3 separate regions of the Homo sapiens genome follow, and all the other regions are reported to be linked to region 3. Evidence: microRNA targets listed by miRTarBase, many of them from high-throughput screens and not tested one by one. Region 3 holds a microRNA gene; each other region holds the end of a gene's coding sequence.

Evidence for each region. Region 3 holds the annotated microRNA hsa-miR-4441 (ACAGGGAGGAGAUUGUA, at 2,842-2,858, shown strand). A microRNA usually pairs through its seed, bases 2 to 8, with sites in the 3' UTR of a target mRNA and lowers its output. Matches are read on the target gene's strand: a 7mer-m8 pairs with bases 2 to 8, a 7mer-A1 pairs with bases 2 to 7 and ends in A, and an 8mer does both.
Region 1: the mRNA of ZNF134 is a reported target of hsa-miR-4441. Seed matches in the 3' UTR shown: 7mer-A1 at 1,613-1,619, 7mer-m8 at 1,897-1,903 and 7mer-A1 at 3,852-3,858.
Region 2: the mRNA of CCND3 is a reported target of hsa-miR-4441. Seed matches in the 3' UTR shown: 7mer-m8 at 5,677-5,683 and 7mer-m8 at 5,522-5,528.

The regions. Positions count from the first base shown.
Region 1 is chr19:57,620,701-57,628,001 of GRCh38, forward strand. ZNF134 (zinc finger protein 134) reads left to right here. Exons shown (of 3, transcript NM_003435.5): 3 at 1-4,024. The coding sequence ends at 703. Among named protein-coding and RNA genes, the nearest start is that of ZNF211, 8.8 kb to the right of the region's middle.
Region 2 is chr6:41,930,200-41,937,500 of GRCh38, forward strand. It overlaps CCND3 (cyclin D3), which reads right to left. Exons shown (of 5, transcript NM_001760.5): 3 at 7,036-7,195; 4 at 6,360-6,496; 5 at 4,753-5,908. The coding sequence ends at 5,741. BYSL (bystin like) reads left to right here. Exons shown (of 7, transcript NM_004053.4): 3 at 1-71; 4 at 436-569; 5 at 1,197-1,357; 6 at 1,529-1,631; 7 at 2,162-2,847. The coding sequence ends at 2,507. Among named protein-coding and RNA genes, the nearest start is that of CCND3, 8.0 kb to the right of the region's middle.
Region 3 is chr2:239,081,385-239,088,685 of GRCh38, reverse strand. It overlaps MIR4441 (microRNA 4441), which reads left to right and starts at 2,760; the gene lies at 2,760-2,859. It overlaps HDAC4 (histone deacetylase 4), which reads left to right. Exons shown (of 27, transcript NM_001378414.1): 19 at 1,072-1,127; 20 at 4,444-4,531; 21 at 6,465-6,584.

The sequences.
Region 1 (7,301 bases), not on the chromosome of region 3:
CCAGAGAATTCATAGTGGAGAGAAGCCTTATGAGTGCAGCGAATGTGGGAAAGCCTTCAGCCGCAAAGCTACACTTGTCCAGCATCAGAGAATCCATACTGGAGAAAGGCCTTATGAATGCAGCGAATGTGGAAAAACCTTCAGTCGAAAAGACAACCTTACTCAGCACAAGAGAATCCACACTGGAGAAATGCCTTATAAGTGCAATGAATGTGGGAAATATTTTAGCCATCACTCCAATCTAATTGTACACCAGAGAGTTCACAATGGAGCAAGGCCTTATAAGTGCAGTGATTGTGGGAAAGTCTTCAGACACAAATCTACACTTGTTCAGCATGAGAGTATTCACACTGGAGAAAATCCTTATGATTGCAGTGATTGTGGGAAATCCTTTGGCCACAAATACACCCTCATTAAACATCAGCGAATTCACACTGAGTCAAAGCCGTTTGAGTGCATTGAATGCGGGAAATTCTTTAGTCGAAGTTCTGACTATATTGCACACCAGAGGGTTCACACTGGTGAAAGGCCTTTTGTGTGCAGTAAATGTGGGAAAGACTTTATCAGAACCTCCCACCTTGTTCGACACCAAAGAGTTCACACTGGAGAAAGGCCATATGAGTGCAGTGAATGTGGGAAGGCCTACAGCTTAAGCTCCCACCTCAATCGGCACCAGAAAGTTCACACTGCAGGCAGGCTTTAGGAGTGCTTTGAATACAACAGGACTCATCAATCAGATGTTGAATTTCATGTATCTGAACATTGACACAAAGGAGATACCTTATGGTGCCAGGTACGTGGGAACCTTCTAGGGATATGTTGCACTTTCTGACTTGCTCAGGTTTTTTGCCAGAGTTATGTCACTGTCAATCCATGTGGCCGAAACCATCTTAACTCTACCAGCTAAGATACCCCAGCATTGGGGAAGGCAGGGTTTTGTATTGTCCAGTCCCTGGAGAAAATCATGAAATGCCTGAGTTCATTGGGGGTCCTCATTCCCTTCTGTATGACAGGTATAGGTATGGATATGACCCATTTTTAGCCAAGAGGGTCTGAGCTGTATCTGCTGGTGGCTTATACAAAAAGTTTACTTTCTTCATGGATATTCTTGGTCTCACATACTTGTAATCAAGTTTTTCCAGCCTCCAAGTCACCTGGCCTGGGAAAGTACTTGCCTCATGTTGCTCTGGTTTGTGATAATAAAGGCTTTACAGTTTAAGCCACATTTAATCTTGGGGCTTCTTCTTATGGTCTGGGGTGGATTGAAAACAGGCTCTGCCAAACTGAAGACAGCCTTTGTGCGGTGCCTCCAACTTTGCCTCAAATGGGACAGTGGGTTGAGGGAGAACAGTTCTTAGTCCAGTTTTGATGTTAACTTCCATAGCTGACAAAGCTTGTTAAGTAAGAATTAAGATCTTGTGTAGACCTGATTTGTCTGGATTTTAGAGTTATTTGAGAGCCCATATTTCACCTTGAGGAGGGTGCTGCTGCTGTGACAGCCTGCAGTGTTTTGAAACAGCATGGATTGGGTGTCTTGTTTGCAGCATGTGTCCCATGTTCCCCAACACTGTTGAGGGAAAGCTGTTCCTCAGGACCTGCTGAGTGGCCATATTCCCTGAAGGCCTGAATCTGTTTCACAGGCCACTGTTGGTAAGATCTAAAGCATCCAGTAGGGAAACAAAATTGATAAATATTGAGTGTGAGTAATTGGGATTGGGGAGATTGTGGCAAACTAGAGGGGAAGTGCCCATTGTAAAAACACATCCACAGACAGTCCAGGCACTAAGGCTGAATGGGATCAGGGTATCCAGAAATCTCAGGATCTCCAGGGCCATGTTACTGTTAGGTCAAGGTCACTGGTGCAGCAACGAATGTAGTTTTTCTAGATTCCTCTCCCTCCCTGGGCTCTTTACCTAATGTCTTTGCGGCACAGGCGGTAACCCTGGGAGTAAAGAGGTGTGGTCCAAGGAAGTAGCTTTTGTGACCAGCTGGAGTTTCTGGTGACTCTTTTGGCAATGGTCCTCATTGTTTGCCAGTTTTTCTTACTACTGAGGAAGAGATTGTCTTCCCAAGATATTTGGAGTGATAAGAGTCACCATAGTGAGGTAGAGTCACTCTTAGTGATGTCCAGTTGTCCAGTTTCCAATAGAAGTGGGAGATCCAGATTTTTAAATGGGATAACTTTTTATAGGTTCACTGAGGTGTAATCAACATGCAATATATTGCACATATTTAAAGTGTACGAGTTAAGTCTTGATACACACACACACACACACACACACACACACACACACACTTGAAACTATCACCCTATCAGTGGTATTGGACATATCTGTTACCCCCAAAGTTAACCTGAGGCCCTTAACCTTTCTCTCAGTGCTCGCCTTCCCCCAGAATCCCTAGGCAACCACTGAGTAGTTTTCACTGTAGGTAAATTTGTCTTTTCTAGAATTTTATGTAAGTCTGCCTATAAAGTGTTAATTTTGCATGCTGTCTTTCATGCAACATAATTTGAAATTTGTCCATGGTATGTATGAACAGTCCATTTTAAAATTACTGAGTCATATTCTGTATGGATATACCACAGTTTATCCATTTATCTTAATTGATGTCTGTACTCCACCCCCATTTTTAAATATTAAAAAGCTGCTGCAAATATTGATGCATGAGTCTTTATGTGGACACTTAGCTGAGAACATTTTTAAGCAGAGGTTTTGAAGGTGTGACCATATATCTTACTAATTATAGTAAAATATATTGGAAAAGAGATACATACAGGGAAGAACTGTGAAACAGAAAAGACCTAAGATTTGATGATTTGGGAAATTCTCAGCCCATCTTAATTGGAAAAAAAAAACAAACCATTGAAATTAAGAGATTCATTGTTAGGAAAGATAGATGTTTTAGAGAGAGAGATGTTTTAGAGAGATAGCCAAGGATGTTTGCTGATACCGGGATCAAAACATACATCAGAACACTGTCACACAAAAAGCTCTTTGAAGAGATTAAATGTGACTTGTAGATCCCCTCAATACAAACAATTTATAAGAAGTTTAAACTATCACTCATCTCAGCAAAAGCCAAAAATATAGATAGGGGATTCCCTAGGAGGAATAATCTGCATAAACCTCTTTTCTAATGTTGTGAATTTCAGTGATGTACAGGAGACTCACAAAATTCTTGAAAATTTTATACCAGTGGAAATGCTCACCTTGGGTCTAAAGGGACCTTGAAAGTATGAAGTTAAAGGGTGTAGGCATGTAAAGTGTGAAGTTAAAGGTTGTAATATTCTATACATGGGACTGGCTGCGGAAACAGGTGCAAGCCCTTGCTACCTTTCATGAGAAAGGAAGGATGACTCAGAGCAGAGGAGAGTCCAGTGGGCAGAGTCCTGAACCATGTGATATTCCCATGTCTTGACTCCCAGTGGCATTTGCCAAACTAGATTTCAGATTTTCTTGGGATTGGTGGTTCCATTTTTTTTGTTTTCCCCCCTTCCATTTCCTCCCCTTTTGAAACAATGCATATACATATAACTATTATCCTAGGTCTTTCCCAACCTTTTGTTTGGGAGCAGATAACTAGTTTTCTAGTTTTACAGATCCAAATGAGACAGGAATAGCACTGGGTGGTCACAGGAGGATGGAAAATCTCAACACCCTGGTTTTGGTGCAGCTGAAAAAAAAAAAGAAAAACCCAAACAACAGCTAAAACGGGAACTAGGCAAAGAAACCGTGGGATAACAGAAAACCCAAAACAAAAGAGAAAACTGCCAGAACCCCAGTCAGGGTGACATGTCTGTAACTCTTCCAGGCAAACCCAAATAAGGGAGGAGGGGTGGTAATCAGGGGTCCCTGAAATCCCCTCTTTTCCCAGAATACCTAATGATTACCCCTATTAAAGGAACACCCATACAATTAGAAACCCAAACTTTGTTTTGCATGACTTGCTCTCAGGGGCACTCCCACACTTCTCTCTTGTGTGTACTTTTGCTTCACAATAAAAGCTGCTTGCCTTTGCTTCACTGTGACTCGTCACTGAATTCTTTCAATGGTGTTAAGAACCTGGATGCTGCTGGGGCTGGGATCTCACCAACAATGTCCAGAGACCCCCCCGAACCCCCCAGCAACACAGAGAAGAATTGTGCCCCAAGATGGGATTATACCTAGAGCCTCATCCATATTGGACTTAGACAATTTAGATGAAATTGGAGACTTTAGCTCAGTGTGGAGGCGCACACCTGTAGTCCCAGCTGCTCAGGAGGCTAAGGCAGGAGAATCGCTTGAACCCAGGAGACAGAGGTGGCAGTGAGCCAAGATTGCGCCACTGCACTCTAGCCTGGGCAATAAAGCGAGACTGTCTCAAAAAAAATCATAAAATAGTAAAAGGCATCAAATTTTTGAGGGGAAATACCTATTGGTGAACTGAAAACTCGACAACAGTTCTGGTGTGTGGGATAACATGTTAATAGCCTTGATCATTTTGAATTTCATAATCATAAATGGGATTTTGTTTTTGAGATGGGGTTTCACTCTTGTTGCCCAGGCTGGAGTGCCATGGCACTATCTCAGCTCACTGCAACCTCTGCCTCCTGGGTTCAAGCGATTCTTCTGCCTCAGCCTCCTGAGTAGCTGGGATTACAGGCATGCACCACCACGCCTGGCTCATTTTGTATTTTTAGTAGAGACAGGGTTTCTCCATGTTGGTCAGGCTGGTCTTGAACTTCTGACCTCAGGTGATCCGGCTGCCTTGACCTCCCAAAGTGCCAGGATTACAGGCATGAGCCACTGTGCCTGGCCTTTTGGGATTGGTTTAAAGAGCTGTGGAAGACAATTGAGCAATTACCACAGAGATTAGCAATGGAGTTCCTAGTATATTTGAAAATGAATAAAATTGTTCCTGGGAAAATTAACAATAGTGATCTCAGTCTAAATTACAGAGTAAGCAATTCAGAGAGGATAATATGCCACATATGCATAGATTTGTTTAAAACAGTAAATTATATAGCACTGTAAAAATTGAAAAAAATACTATTAGAACAACAAACAATTAGGTTGATGAAGCACAATAAGAGACTAATGAAAAGGAAAGAAATGAAATTACTTAATATCAAAATGTATGAAATAAATTTAAGCCATATACAAGCATGCCAAATTAACTTGTGAGATTAACAAAGAGTGTATTAATTGGGGAAAAAGACTAGGAGTCTGCAAATCCTAAGATTAGGCTTAACACTAAGCCTCTTACAAACTTCAAGTTTTCAAAAAGGCTCAAGGTTTTCTGGTACAGAGGTACTATGGGAGCACAGTTCAGATTTAACTTAACATTACGTTATTTAGGCCAGGCACGGTGGCTCATGCCTGTAATCTCAGCACTTTGGGAGGCTGAGGCGGGCAGATCACGAGGTCAAGAGATGGAGACCATCATGGCTACCACAGTGAAACCCCATATCTACTAAAAATACAAAAAATTAGCCGGGTGTGGTGGCAGGCGCCTGTAGTCCCAGCTACCCGGGAGGCTGAGGCAGGAGAATGGCATGAACCCGGGAGGCGGAGCTTGTGGTGAGCCGAGATCACACCACTGCACTCCAGCCTGGGTGATAGAGCAAGACTCCACCTCAAAAAAAAAAAAAAGAAAGAAAATTACAGTCTTTAGGAAACTAGATATTCATCAGAGAGTGTATGTGACCAGAATAAGCCATCTTACGACGTCTAGATGACACAGTAAATACTTATGCTGATTCAAAATTACCTGAGCTACTTCAACATAGGACATAGCAAAACACTGATAATTACATTACTGTATACTTATAAAAGATGCTTGTGGCTGGGTGCAGTGGCTCACACCTATAATCCCAGCCCTTCGGAAGGCCAAGGCAGGCGGATCATCTGAGGACAGGAGTTCCAGACCAGCCTGGCCAACATGGTGAAACCCCATCTCTACTAAAAATACTAACATTAGGCAGGAGAATTGCTTGAATCCGGGAGGCAGAGGTTGCAGTGAGCAGAGATTGCGCCATTACTCCAGCCTGGGCGGCGAGAGCAAAACTCCGTCAAAAAAACAAAAACAAAAAAAACAAACCATGCTTTCAAATCTGCCTAACAATTATAGCTTCAGAGTCCTTGTATTCAGGATTATCTATTTGTAACTTACTACTTTTTACAAATATTTTTCTTACACTAAATTAGAAAGAATGTTTGGTCTCGCAGGTGTCTGAGAATCTTTAGTAAAATACCCCTACAGATTCTATTTTGGAATCATGGTTTTAAAAAAAGCAAAAGTGTGTATTTCCAATTAATTGCTACAGAGATGCCAAATGTCCACTCAGTAGTTGTGAGTAAAACAAATTGTCTTATTGCTCTTCACTTCACAGGCAAATAAACTCTTCGAGTGATTGTGTGAAGTTCAGAGTATTAGGTCAGGGATGAAATGGAGGCTAATCCAGACACGTTATAAGAGAAAATATGGAATAGAGATTCTAGGGGCACTAAAGCAAATGCATGAGGTGGTCTATGCTTCTGAGTCCCTCATAGTATGTTCCTTCTGAGTATTTGTATTCTAAACCTCAAAATTACAATTTTTTGTATAACATTTCTTACTGGATTCTCCAAGATATAATCTACTTTTTGAAGAATATGACATTTATGTAGAAATAGTGGTTACTTACCAAACTGGTATTTGCTACTAGGAAAGTAGCATCAGTTTTTGGCATGGGCATCTGAACTCTGAGAATAAGGTTTGGGATTCCATGACCTCATCTCCTTGCTGGGAAGTGATGGTCATTTTATTCTTCCACCTGTAATTGCAGTGACAGTGTCTCCAAGAGGATTGGAGATGATCTCTGAAAAAAATTTTTGAAGTTAGAAAATTGTAGAAAGTTATTAACATTAATTACTGGAGTTATCCATTTAGAATGACATCATACCTAAAAGAGAAAATTATCTGTGAAATGGGAACAAATAAAGGTAAATAGAGGAAACAGTTCTAAGACATGGGACATGTAAGTTGAACCCTTGGTTATGCTGGAATCTTGGCTCCTATGAAATTTTTTTTTTTTTTTTTTTTTTTTTTTTTTTGAGATGTCTTGCTCTGTCGCCCAGGCTGGAGTGCAATGGCGCGATCTCGGCTCACTGCAACCTCCGCCTCCCAGGTTCAAACAATTCTTCAGCCTCAGCCTCTCAAGTAGCTGGGATTACAGGCGCCCACCACTGCACCTGGCTAATTTTTGTATTTTTAGTAGCGATGGGGTTTTGCTATGTTGGCCAGGCTGGTTTTGAACTCCTGACCTCAGGTGATCCGCC
Region 2 (7,301 bases), not on the chromosome of region 3:
CAGAGGTGTCGGGCTTCCCTATGCCCCAGCTGGACCCCCGGGTCCTAGAAGTGTACAGGGGGGTCCGGGAGGTAAGAGCTGAGAGGGGAGCCATGGTGGAAGACCCCTTTGGGGGCTGTGGGCTCCTGCCACAGGCTTTTTTGCCTTTTGCCTGCATCACATACTAAAGAAGTCATGGGAGTAGAAAACAGACCTAAGAGGCAGAGTGTGTGGGTTCAGATTCCTGCTCTGCCTGTAAATGACTTGGCATCCTTGGGTCGGTTACTGGAACTCTCACTGGTCATCTGTAAAATGAGCATAATAATGGCACCTCCTTATAGGTTATTGTGGGGATGCAATGAGTTAATATATTAAAAGCACCCAGACAAGTTCCTAGCCCACAGCAAGCTTGCCATATGTGGATGACGATGATTGTTTTACCTCCCTCATCCCTAGGTATTATCTAAGTACCGCAGTGGAAAACTGCCCAAGGCATTTAAGATCATCCCTGCACTCTCCAACTGGGAGCAAATCCTCTACGTCACAGAGCCGGAGGCCTGGACTGCAGCTGCCATGTACCAGGCCACCAGGTAGAGTAGCTGGGGGTTCGGGGGCCTTGGGTTTATAGGTGCAGGCTGAGTTTGGGACGGACAGGCTTTCCTTGCCTCTGGCCCCAGGGCATTTGAGCTTTGCCCCAGGGCCCTCTCTGTGCTACTTTATAGCATCATTTTTCTAGCTTTTCCTGTGTCATTTTTTGGGGCCAAGACCCAGTTAGCCAGTTAGGAACCCTCCGTGATGAATTTCTAGGGGAGAGGCTTTTATAGCTACTGGGATACAACCCTCTGTGATGAATTTCTAGGGGAGAGGCTTTTATAGCCACTGGGATACAACCCTGTAGCAGGACCCTCAGAAGTCTGTGACTGCCCAGGCATGCTCAGGGCTACTCAACTGATGCTGAGTAGCCATCAGTTTGCACGAGCTCTGGCTCTCCCACAGACAAACGGTGCTCCTCATTTGGGTATATCTCATTGCCCCTCCTATTCTCTCTCTAAGCTGATGGGTGTTGCATGCACACAGCTCCCACACATCCCCCACTGAAAGAAAGGTCCCATATTTTACTTTAAAACCTCTTGTATGCACTATCCATGGTGATATTTAATGGGCCGGGTCCAGACTGTCGTGTGAGTTGGAAACTTCCCCCGCTTAACTCCCACTAGGATTTTTGCCTCTAACCTGAAGGAACGCATGGCCCAGCGCTTCTACAACCTTGTCCTGCTCCCTCGAGTACGAGATGACGTTGCTGAATACAAACGACTCAACTTCCATCTCTACATGGCTCTCAAGAAGGCCCTTTTCAAACCTGGAGCCTGGTTCAAAGGTGGGATCCCAGAGGCACGGAAGAAAGGGAAGGGCTGGAGCTTCTATGGGGAACACAGCAGGCCTGGTGTGGGAAATTGCTAGCTGTCCCTGGGCTGGGTGGGAATGCTTCCTGCTGTAACTCCTTTTTCTCATCCTGGGCTCACAGTGGCTGCCCTTTGACTCTCCCTAGGGATCCTGATTCCACTGTGCGAGTCTGGCACTTGTACCCTCCGGGAAGCCATCATTGTGGGTAGCATCATCACCAAGTGCTCCATCCCTGTGTTGCACTCCAGGTAGTATTGCTGGGGGTGGAAGGGGGCTGGTCAGTGGATATCCAGATAGTGGAATTGCCAGGACTTGGGAATGGGCAGAGTGGAGAAGGAGCTAAGGAAAGCCTTGGGTTTGTGCTTGTTTAAGCCAATGAGTAGGTGTATCATTATCCCCCTCAATGTAAGTTGTGCAACAACAGGGCCCGAGTGCCTGGCATAAAGTAAGTTCTCAGTAAATAGATAAACAAATGAGTAGGAAACACAGGAAGAAAGTAGTTAGGGTGGAGACGTTGAGATGTTTGGACCATACTCTAGTTGGTTACTGAAACAAGCAGTCTATGCTAGAGATAGAGATTTGGGTGGATCCCTGTAGAGATGGTGACTGAGGTCAAGGGAGTATAATATGATTGTGTAGGTGAGAAGGTCCCTGGGGAATACCATAGTGTAAGGGCCAGCAGAGGGGAAGAAAAAAAGGGGAAAGCATAGAGGGAGAAGTAGGATCCTTCTTCCAATGTTTTCCCTGCTTACTCTACCCCACCTCCCTTTCCCACTAGTGCGGCCATGCTGAAAATTGCTGAGATGGAATACAGCGGTGCCAACAGCATCTTCCTGCGACTGCTGCTGGATAAGAAGTATGCACTGCCTTACCGGGTGCTGGATGCCCTAGTCTTCCACTTCCTGGGGTTCCGGACAGAGAAGCGTGAACTGCCTGTGCTGTGGCACCAGTGCCTCCTGACTTTGGTCCAGCGCTACAAGGCCGACTTGGCCACAGACCAGAAAGAGGCCCTCTTAGAACTGCTCCGGCTGCAGCCCCATCCACAGCTATCGCCCGAAATCAGGCGTGAGCTTCAGAGTGCAGTCCCCCGCGATGTGGAAGATGTTCCCATCACCGTGGAGTGAGGAAAACAGTCAGCTGTCCTGGCCAAAGGGGTTTGGAAGGACACCAAGACCCCCGTTGGTGACTGAAGATGACACTGAGCTTTAATGGCTGAAGACCCAGATCAGGGCAGTGACAGATCACAGGGACATCTGTGGCTCCCAGTCCAGGACAGGAAGGACTGAGGGTCTGGCTGGTTCCCTCTTCCATTCTAGGCCCTTATCCCTGTTTAGTTCTGAGAGCCAACTTGAGATACCATATGCTAGCATTCCCAGTCCCCAGCTGGGGCTTGGTGTGAGTACTTTTTCTATGGCTATTGTGTCAGGTCACTGTGGATAAAGGCAAAGACAGATATTTATTGAACCTCTGTGTTTGGTGTAGTCAATGGAGGTAGGCATTACTCCTGTTAGTATTTGGAGGACGGAGGACATTCTTGTCCTGTTTATATAGGACCCACCTCCCTTGATCTCCAAGCTTGTTTCTCCAGGCTGCACTCACCTTGTTAGCCCCCAGGGGACACATCCTCTGCCTTCCCCCATCACAGGCTACAGCAGCCAGGAGCAGGTTGTCCAAAGATGGTCGTGTCTCAGCAGTGGATGAAAGGACTACAAGAGAAAACTCCTTGGGGAAAGCAGAGATAAGAGTCAAGAAAGGCCAGAGAGGCTGGGCTTGGTGGCTCACGCCTGTAATCCCAGCACTTTGGGAGGCTGAGGTAGGTGGATTACCTGAGTTCAGGAGTTCGAGACCAGCCTGGCCAACATGGTGAAACCCCTTCTCTACTAAAAATACAAAAATTAGCTGGGTGTGGTGGCGTGTGCTTGTAATCCCAGCTACTTGGGAGGCTGAGGCAGGAGAATCGCTTCAACCTGGGAGGTGGAGGTTGCGGTGATCCAGGATTGGGGCCACTACACTCCAGCCTGGGCCACGGAGCAAGACTGTCTCAAAAAAAAAAAAAAAAGGCCAGAGAATAAGGCTGGGCCCAAGAATGGTTAGATCAGAGCTAGCATCAAACAGGCTCCCTTTCTGGCTTTTCAGCCAATGAAAGCTTTAGACTAGTGACTAGTAAACTAGGGCCAGGTGCCCCTTTTTTTGTTGATTTGTTTTTTGAGACGGAGTCTCGCTCTGTCGCCCAGGCTGGAGTACAGTGGCATGATCTCGGCTCGCTGCAACCTCCGCCTCCATGGTTCAAGAGATTCTCCTGCCTCAGCCTCCTGAGTAGCTGGGACTACAGGTGCGTGCCACCACGCCTGGCTAATTTTTGTATTTTTAGTAGAGACGGGGTGGAGAAGGGGTTTCACCAGGTTGGCCAGGCTGGTCTCAAACTCCTGACCTCAGGTGATCCACCCGCCTCGGCCTCCCAAAGTGCTGGGATTACAGGCATGAGCCACTGCACCCAGCCCAAGTGCCCATTTTTGTGTGGCCCATGAGCTAAGAATGATTTTTCCATTTTTAAATGGGGAAAAAATTAAAACAGTATTTTGTGATAGGTAGGAATTACATGAAATTCCAGTTTCAGCATCCATAAATAGTTTTGTTGGAACAGCCATGCTCACCCATTTACATGTTTTCTGTGGCTGGTTTTGTGCTACAACAGCAGAGTTTAAGTATAATCCTGCTATAACCCTTGTTATTTGCTTTCGAAATTGCGCATTTGTTCCAACCCATTTAATATATTTGGGAACAGTTTGATCATAACGCAGACTTCATGTTTGCTTGTGTGTGATTTCATCCTCGAGAAATAGTAGGTGAATATGGGAAACTGTATCTAGCTGAACCAAGCCTAAGTAGTACACAAAACTCACACCTAAACATGTACCAGCTACCTCACTCATCTCCCCACCTGTGTTGAGCAACCCTTCCGACGTCCACTTCCAAAAGCAAAGTGCATGTCTTCAAGATAAAAGGCCATATTTATTGTGATATAATTTCTCAACCATTTGACATATGTAAAAACCAAGCTATCCTTTTTTTTTAAATGTGTCACTCATTTGAGTGTTGTGCTTCAAGCCCCATTTTTCCCATGAGACCTGTGGTCTTTATTGTGCAATTTTGCATGGCATAGTGATTTTTAGGAACGCATAGGTCACATTATAAAGCAGAACTGACTATATTTGGGTCAGAGACCATGTACCCCACAAAGCCTAAATATCCAGCCCTTTACAGAAAAGGCTCAATGATCCCTGCTTTAGACCATTGACTTCCACCTCCTTACCTCATACAGTGCAGAAATAGACTTACCCACACACCAATCCAAGAAGCCAAAGCCAGTTTTATTTCACAATCATCTTTATTACAGTAGGATGATGGTCCTGGGCCACCAGCCTAAACCTTGCAGCCTTAGGAAAGACCTGTGTCAACAGGGCTTGCCTCCCTCTCTAGACAGGGGCTCAGCCACCTCCAGGGCATCCCTGCTGCATTTTCCCTGCTGGAGGATGGGGCAGAGGGACAATGGGAGAGGAGGGCATGACCCCACCCCAGGCTATAGCAGCTCCTTGGCCACAAAGATCCTTTTGCCAGTAGCAGAAGGGAGGAAAACAGCAACCACCAGGGTTACCACCACTTGTGGGATGGCCAGGACCCCATTATGTCCTCTTAAAGTTGTGCTCAAAGCAATTAATAAATTAAAATGAGCCTTCAGCAGCAAAGCTGTCAATCACACAGGAGAAGCTGAGCAGAAAGCAAAGCAAAGAGGAATTTATAGCTTCTCTGGCTGAGGCCTAGGCCCCTCCCTCTAGGAGCAGCTGTCAGCACGGACTACATAGGGGCCTCCAAAGTACTGAGAGGAGCCATCTAGACTATTCCCCCTCATATGTGTCTATCATGCATTAAATTTTAGAGGGACCCCAATCCAAATGCAATAACCCTAGAAGGGACAACACCTTTAGAAGGCACTAGAGCATTTTGGCAGTTGAAAACATGAGAGCCCCCAGGGGTGGGGGGGGGCGTTCAAAAGGAATGCTGGTGTATGTATCCAATTCTGTCCCATCAGCCTGGCCCACCCCCAGCTAGAGTTGGGAAAGGCGCTGCTGGTCAGATGCAGGGAGGAGGAGCTTGACTAGCCACCGAAATGCAGACATGGCTGGCCGGGCCCCTTAGTGCACACTGCGGGGATGGGTAGGACCAGATCCCTTGGGCTTTGTGAAGGGGGAACAGACGCCCCTTCAGGCTTAGATGTGGTGTGGTTCCTGGAGGCAGGGAGGTGGGTGGCAGCGGCCCCTCCTCTGCTTAGTGGCCACTCCAGAGGGCCTCTCCAGGGCTACAGGTGTATGGCTGTGACATCTGTAGGAGTGCTGGTCTGGCTGGGCCCTTGGCTGCTGGAGCCCCGGGGGGCTTTGGGCGCTGGGCTGGAGCTGGTCTGAGAGGCTTCCCTGAGGCTCTCCCTGAGTGCAGCTTCGATCTGCTCCTGACAGGCCCGCAGGCAGTCCTGGGAACATGGGAGAAGAGTGAGGAGCAAACACTCCCCCCATAGCATCTGGCAGCAGGTGCAGGGGAAGGACAGCTCCCAACACATGGGGAAGTCTGGGGAGGTTAGGCCACAGCCCGGCCCCAGGAATCGCTCTTTAGTTCTCAGAAACTAGCAAGAGGATGTGGCAAGGGAGTGTGAGAGCAGCCCTGCATCTGACACCAAACCCCCCACCCCCACTCCAGCACACCACTTGGCAAGAAAAGAACCCCTAGGGCCAGTGCCCTTCACCCCACCCAAGATACTTGCTCTTCCCCAGACCAAGGCAGGAGATAAAAAGCCACAAAGCCCCAAGGTTGTGAAACCAGGACTTGGGACCAGGTTGGGGTTGGAGGTTTCCCTCTACTGGAGGCTCAGGGCATAGCACTACTTTATGAATGGAGAGGCTGCTGCCCAGCTACCCAGCACTCACCACTTCAGTGCCAGTGATCCCTGCCAGCAGCTCTGTGAGCTCATCCCCGGACATGGAGCAGGCACCCAGGCCTTGCACTGCAGCCCCAATGCTGCCCGTGGCGATCATGGATGGCGGGTACATGGCAAAGGTATAATCTTGGAGAGGAGGAAAGGGAACCATGAGAGAAGGAAACCTGAAGGATAACGGCCAGCATGGACTTCCGACTCCTTGGAAAGTGCCAGGCAGCATGAGTAGAGCAGAGGACATGCTGGAAAACTCCAGCAGTGGGTGGGGCAAGATATCAGCAAGGGAGGAAGACAGGAAAGAGTATCTTTCCTAGAGATCAGAACCAACTGCCAGTTTCCATAGGTCCCGGGAATAGACAAGACACTCCCTAGTATGGGAACACAACTAGGGCCAAGAGACTGGGGTTCTGTTCCCAACCTGTTCACTGTGAGACCTTGGGCAAGTCACTTCTCTCTATACCCTCAGTGTCCCCACTACAAACTGGAGGGGTCTGAGATCCCATATAGCTGATTATAACCTGCTTTTCTGCATTGAGACTGGGGGCTCAGAGGGGGTATAATTTTCACAAAGGAATTTTGACAGTATAAACCAGAATCTTCAGTTACCTCTCACCCTTATAAGTCTTCTGATTTTTCCAATTTGGCAAAAATGTGCATAGGGCTCTTACCTGTAGCACAGAGGGCCAAAAAGGTCTGGGCATGCTTTTTGACCAAGGCCTGTCGGTCACGGGGCAGAGAGAGCCGGTGCAGAATGAAGGCCAGGAAATCATGTGCAATCACAGCAGCCAGGTCCCACTTGAGCTTCCCTAGGACCAGCACCTCCCAGTCCTGAAAAAGCGGGGAAAGGGTGGGGTCAGTGGCTGGAGAAGTGAAGAGGAGGGAGCAAAGCAGAAGTCTCAAAGTCTCAGGCAGGGAAGCCCATCAAACTTTTAAA
Region 3 (7,301 bases):
ATGTCTGAATACTGCTTCATCGAGCACATTGTTAAGAGAAGCTGCTCACACACACACACACGCCCTGGTGCTGTTCCCTGCCCGCCGTCTACCCTCCGGTGCTTCAGCACCATCGGCGCAGGTGTCAGGGCAGTGAAAAGAGTACATAGAGCCTCAGGACTACGTGGACTACAGACCCTCAGCAGGGGTCGGGACCGAGGGGTCTGCAGCCTACACTCGGAAGCACTGAGTGCAGAAACGCAGGGAGGCCAGGGCCTCTTGAGAGCGTTTGCCGCCACCTCATGGGCTGCCCTCGCCCCTTCCTGAGCCTGGTCCCTGCGGCGTCCGGCTCACCCCGTCCATGGCATTGTCACTCATGGTTGGCCGGCACTTTTTTTGAGGCTTCATTACAGACCTTGACCACACAGTGTCCTGTTGCTGGTGAGACCAGGAGAGGACTGGAATCCATTTTTATGGCAGCAACTACAGAGTGGTTTGCAGATGGATTTTTGACGCAGAAGTGATGGGGCAGAGGACAGCGTTTCTGCCCAGTGTGAGAGGAGCTGTTTCGTGGGCTGCCCACTTGCCCGCCATCCTGAGAGCTGAACTGCAGTAAGGACAGAGGCAGTCACGTGAAGGCCAAGCTGGGACACAACGTCTCTGCCCCGCGGCCAAGTCCTTGAGTGGGGCCCCTTCTGCTTCATCTTCCTCCAGTGGCCACCTAGCGGGTCCTGGTCCCGAGCCGACGGGGAGTGAGCACATCCTTTCCACATCACCCCGACCCCTGAGCCAAGGGCACCACGCCTCACCGACAGTTCTGAGAGTGGGCAGGCACCCACCTGTTATCCTAGTGACTGCGTTTCGGGGGAACCATTAGTAGCCCCCAGACCTCTTTAGGAGAAGGGCCCAGGCTTCCCGGAAAGGCTCCCAGCTGGCCCTGCATCCTGTCCCCATCACTGTGGCCAGGGTGCAGCAAGAAACTGTCCTCCTGTGTAGCCCAACTCTGCTAAAAGTTGAGTGTGCAACCATTTTCCCGTGGCTACAAAGTGTGTCTTTTGTTGCTCTCTCCTGGCTGTCTGGTGTCACCTGCAGAATGGCTTTGCTGTGGTCCGCCCCCCTGGACACCATGCGGAGGAGAGCACGCCCATGTGAGTACACGCCGCAGCCCCGCACAGCAGGGGAACCCAGGTCTTCCTTCCCTCCCTTAGGGCTGGGTGGGTGTGTGAGTGACTGCGGGGAGCTGGGCTGCTGTTTGCTGGCCACCCAGGATGTGCCGCATGCCGGCTTGGCTCCAGCTCCTGGGTGTGGAGTGCAGATGCCAAAGTCTGCGAGCATCACTGCTCGGTTATGACGGAGACAGATCAGAGGAAAGGATGGGAAAGGGTCTGTGGAGGTTAGTCCAGAGAAGCCTCTGGTTGTTGAGTAGTTGTCAACACTTGGGAGAGGAAACACCACTCACCCTCAAGTGAGTCACTGCAGCACTTGCTTGTCTAGAGGACTCAGGTCATTTTGCGCATGGCCTTTTAGCTGCCTGCCGAATGCCTGGTACTGACGCAGCAAGCCACAGAGCCACGTCCATGCAGGCAGCTATCCTGATGCTGTTTCGGGTCTTTCAGAGACTGCCGACGGTCCATACAGCTGAGGATCTGGGCAGGGTGGCGAGTGTGGGGTGTGGGTCCTCCCGGATCCATCCCTGTGTGTCCAGAGCCAGTGGCAGGACAGACCCGCAGCTGTCTGTGGAGTGCCTTGCAGCCTGGGTGGTGAATGAATGATCTATCCCGTCAAAGAGCATGCTGTCTCCTGGGACGGTAGCCGCTCTAGTGAGGAGGGGTGGTGCTAGAAAGAGCGTCTCCCCATGCTCTGGAGATGGAGAAGGCGTGCCTGATCTTGCCAGCTTCGGTGAGGAGGAGGTGGCATAGGGCTCTGCCTTGGAGAGTTGGAGCAGCAGTTTGTCAGATGGCAACGCAAGAACAAGTGCAGATACAAGTTCACTATCAGGCTGTGGCCAGGAAGCAGTCAGAACAAGACAGAACCGCAGGGGCCCGGGAAAGGGCCTCCCTGTCACCCCTGGGAAGTCAGGCGTCCACGGAGGGGCCGGCAGGACGTGAGAGATAGTCAGATCCGCGTGTTAGAGCAGAATCTCCTTCACGTACAGGGAGGAGACTGTACGTGAGAGATAGTCAGATCCACATGTTAGAGCAGAGTCTCCTTCGTGTGCAGGGAAGAGATTGTACGTGAGAGACAGTCAGATCCGCGTGTTAGAGCAGATTCTCCTTCATGTACGGGGAGGAGACTGTACGTGAGAGATAGTCAGATCCGCGTGTTAGAGCAGATTCTCCTTCATGTACAGGGAGGAGACTGTACGTGCGAGATAGTCAGATCCGCGTGTTAGAGCAGAGTCTCCTTCGTGTACAGGGAAGAGACTACGTGCGAGATAGTCAGATCCGCGTGTTAGAGCAGAGTCTCCTTCATGTGCAGGGAGGAGACTGTACGTGAGAGATAGTCAGATCCGCGTGTTAGAGCAGAGTCTCCTTCGTGTACAGGGAAGAGACTGTACGTGCGAGATAGTCAGATCCGCGTGTTAGAGCAGAGTCTCCTTCGTGTACAGGGAAGAGACTACGTGCGAGATAGTCAGATCCGCGTGTTAGAGCAGAGTCTCCTTCATGTGCAGGGAGGAGACTGTACGTGAGAGATAGTCAGATCCGCGTGTTAGAGCAGAGTCTCCTTCGTGTACAGGGAAGAGACTGTACGTGCGAGATAGTCAGATCCGCGTGTTAGAGCAGAGTCTCCTTCGTGTACAGGGAGGAGACTGTACGTGAGAGATAGTCAGATCCGCATGTTAGAGCAGAGTCTCCTTCGTGTACAGGGAGGAGATTGTACGTGAGAGATAGTCAGATCCGCGTGTTAGAGCAGAGTCTCCTTCATGTACAGGGAGGAGATTGTACGTGAGAGATAGTCAGATCCGCGTGTTAGAGCAGAGTGTCCTTCGTGTACAGGGAGGAGATTGTAACCGCCAGGGAGGGATGCTTGTTGGAATCTTTGTAGCTTTACCTGAAAACCACGTGTTTGCTCCACATCCCAGAACAGTCACTTGGGCACCAGGCTTCCTGTTTGTTTCATTTCTCTGAAGTTTCTTTTCTAATTTGAACCTGAGTTGTTGGATATTCCAAATAATAAACCTCAGAGGAGACAAACGAATTGTGTTTTGTTGCAGCTCTTCGCTGTGCTCCCCGTGAGCCGCTGCAGGAGCTCAGCGTCTAGGATGTCCTGGGGCGTGTGGGCTTCCCCATGCCAGCCCGGATTCTGAAAACAAAACAACTAGTGTTTCTCCGTTTCTGTGGTCATTCGGACAAAGGGAATTTGAGATCAAGAAGGTTTTCGTTGTTATTTGAATCACTTTCATAGCTTGTTTTCTTGGTCTCTTGAGTAAGACTCTCTAAAATTAAAGGTAATTTATGTATTGGAATATAGGAAGGTCAGCAGGAAGCAACTGAGATGAACGGCTGCCATGTCTCCTGGGGCGTGGCGGCAGCTCCTGAGAGGAAGGGTTCCAGGTGAAGATGAGGGAAATGTTGGTAACATGTGAAATAGGGTTCCCTACCAGAGGAGCGTGGGGGACCTCCAAGCAGGAGAGTGTGTGTGTGTGTGTGTGTGTGTGTGTGTGTCTGTCTGTCTCAGTATGGAACTGTGGATGTGTGTGATAGGTATATGCTTATGTGTATATGTGTGTGTGTGCTTGTATGTGTCTGTGGTTTGTGTGTGTGTGAGTGTTTCTGTATGGGGTGTTCATGTGTATCTGTGCATGTGTGTCTACGTGGGGGGGGTGGGTATGGGCGTATCTGTGGGGCATATATGTGTGTAGGGCGTTTGCATGGTGTGTGTGTCTCTATCTGTGGGGTGTGGGGTGTGTGTGGGGTGTGTGTCTGTGTGGAGTGTGTGTGGGGTGTGTGTCTGTGGTGTATGGGCGTATCTGTGGGGCATGTATGTGTGTAGGGCGTGTTGCATGGTGTGTGTGTCTGTGTGGGAGGGTGTGTCTCTGTGGTGTGTGTGTCTGTGTGGGGTGTACGTGTGTCTCTGTCTGTGGTGTGTGTGTCTGTGGGGGGTGTGTGTGTGTCTCTGTCTGTGGTGTGTGTGTCTGTGTGGGGTGTGTGCATGTCCGTGTCGGTTAGCCGACCCTATGGCATTGGCTAAGATTCCCCAGTGGCTTGTTTGGGAGCTGTGTGTGTGTGTGTGTGTGTGTGCGCGCGCACGCGTGTGAGTGTGTCTGCATGTGGGGTGTGTACGTGTCTGTCTGTTAACCGATTCTCCGGCATCACTGAGGGTTCCCTGCGACGTATTCAGGAGCTCTGCACTCACAGAGACCTCTTAGGTCTGCGTGGACCCCGAGTGGCTCTCTGGCGGGCCGTGGAGAAACTGGCCACCGCCCACCTGCGCTTCGTCTCCAGCGTCAGTTCTCTCCCGCAGGGGCTTTTGCTACTTCAACTCCGTGGCCGTGGCAGCCAAGCTTCTGCAGCAGAGGTTGAGCGTGAGCAAGATCCTCATCGTGGACTGGGTAAGCAGAGCCGCCTTGGCCAGCGCAGCTCAGGTTGCTCCTTTGCCGTCCCCGAGCGGACAGCAGCGTGTGGACAGAGGAGCTGGGCTCTTGGATGTGGGAAGCTTAGGTTTCTGGAAACGGTCTCAAAGATGCGGAGAAGTAAAGCCCCAAACCTGCTACAAGTCATTGTACAGCTTCCGTCAGCCGACCCTGGCGAATGGGGTCCTGGCGTGTCTAAAAATGTGCCTGTGGGTGACGGCAGCGGCCAGGGCCACCCTCGACGAGATCTTCTTGGAAGACAGGTGTTGGGGAGGAGGCTGTGTCCACATCTACTTTGCGTGTGTGGCCTGGGAGCCTGGGAGGACCCTCACCCTGGTCGAAGGCGGCAGTCTGCTTCTCAGTCACCCCAGTGAAGCCCGTGCCTTCCTGCTGCTGTGTGGGCACCTGGTCCTGCTGGAATGGGGGGTGCCACTGCCCCCAAAAGAGTCATCTCTTTTTAAATAATGCTATATGATGTCCGAATCTGAATTCCACGAATAGGTATACTCATTCTTATACCGGAAATTAATATTCAAGATATTCATCTTATTACTCTTTTTAAAGCCAGATATATACATATTTAGTGTTCTCTTTGGTATTTATGATTTATTTCATAATTTTTAAGGGAAAAAAGCAGGCCCTGTCAGGTAGGGTTATGATTTGAATTGGAGAAGTCCTTCTGAGTTTGGGTAAAGAAACAATATGGCACAGCCAGGACAGCCATGCTGTTTCGGAGAGGCAGGTCAGGGGATGCGGCAGAGCAGCGGGTCCCCCACACCCAAGGACCTGCGAGCCGGGAGCCCTCCCTCAGCTCCTCCTAAGGGAGCAGGTAGGAGTGCCTGGGAAGAGAGCAGTGTGAGGTCGCTGATGGCTAAAGACTGGGGACCCATCCCCAAAAGAGTGAAGCGCTAGGACACGCAGACAGGCTGCGTAGACCCTGTGTGGCGTGCTCCCTGCGCGCTGAGCTGTGATATTGCCCATGTACACACCATGCGGACAGGGTCATCTCAGTGTGAAGCCACATGTCGGGAAAGCCTCCATGTGCGTCTTCACAGCGATTACCTACTCTGTGGGGTGGAAGGTTCTTGTCCATCGCTCCTCACCTGTAGCTGCCCTTCCGCCTTTTCTGTGATGAGCACAGATAACGGAGCAGCAAGTTCTCGTGCTGGGAACATCAGGGCTGCATGCTGTCTTCTCAGGCACACAGCTGTTCTCAGCGGGGCCACCCCCTCGCCCGCCCATCCTGGTGACCACCTGCCCTGTGGCCCGGGGCAGAACAGCCACGGTCAGTAAAGCCCCAGGCTGCCTGTGCTCTCTGCTGCATCTGACCTGTGGGTTTTGTGATTAAGAAACGGTGCTTGCCATTTGGGCACAGGGGCCTGGACCCCGTACTGTGTGTGCCTGTCACTCACGGACACCTGGGACTTGTCTCCTGCCGAACGCCCTGCCTGGCATGGAATTGGCACCTCCCACGTGCCTGCAAGCGGGCAGGCCACAGCCAGTGACCTCCTTCCTGACAGAGGCTGAGGAAGTGGCTCACTTGTCAGAGACACGGCAGGTGTAGGAAATTGATCAGATGGCTTCGTCTGGGAAATGGTGGCCTCTAGGCCTGGCTGAACTCCAGCCCCATCGGCTGCTGGAGTCAGGATTGTGCCATGGCGCTAAGGGCGAGGGAAACAGTGCTGCAGACGCGAACATTGGCCCTTAGAACCCCTGCGACCCTGCACCACGTAGCCCTGACCCACACAGCCCCAGAATCGCGCCTGCCGGGTACGGGCCCAGCTGGAGGGTAATGTCATTCCTGAGCAGGAGCCGTTGTCACTAAGCACAACTGGGGTTGGGGACGGCCCTCAGGGGAGGCCACCCTCCAATACCTGCCTCAGCCCTGAAGTAGTTGTCCCTGCTCTTTAAGGACGTGCACCATGGAAACGGGACCCAGCAGGCTTTCTACAGCGACCCCAGCGTCCTGTACATGTCCCTCCACCGCTACGACGATGGGAACTTCTTCCCAGGCAGCGGGGCTCCTGATGAGGTAGGTGGGGTATATAAGGGCCTCTGGGGGGAAAGGGGGACTGCGGGGAGCCGCTGTGGGGGCACGGGGCAGACGGTCCACAGCTGCCCGGCAGCAGTGAGTGCGGCCTTCGTGCTCACTTAAGCCCAGACAGTAACTTCAGTCAGACGTCAGCCTGCATCGTATCGCGTGTGCACAGGTGGCCTGTGTTTTGTCTGAAGTACAAATGAGAGGCTGGATATTGTTTCTGGTTCCCATCCAGGCAGACAGAGGTGTTTGTGAAGGAGGAGGTGTGTGGTGCCCGTTTTCCTCCGGGCAGGGCCCAGGCCACTGTCTTCCACAGGACACCCTCCGGCAAGGGGCTCTGTCCACTGTCCTTTGCCCGGCGCGGGGCTGCATGGCGGCCCCAGGAACGGCAGGCCCAGCGGCTCCTTGACAACGCCCCAGGTCCCCGTTCAGAGCCTGCCCACTCTGAACAGAGGCTCCAACAGCAGGGCTTTCATCCAGGAAGACGCTCCGTCTGCCTCTGGATATTATTTTTTTAGAGGAAGTAGGAAATGACAGGCTCATCGGAGACACTTTCTGCCCAGAGAGACCCAGGTCTGATTCCCTGATGTAACACACGGCACACAACACAGGGCGGCGGGTCCGCAGAAATGTCAGTGCAGGGCCTTGGTGTGCCAAGGGCAGGGTCGGCGAGAGCCTACAGCAGCCAGGAAAAGGGCCCCCTTGCTGATG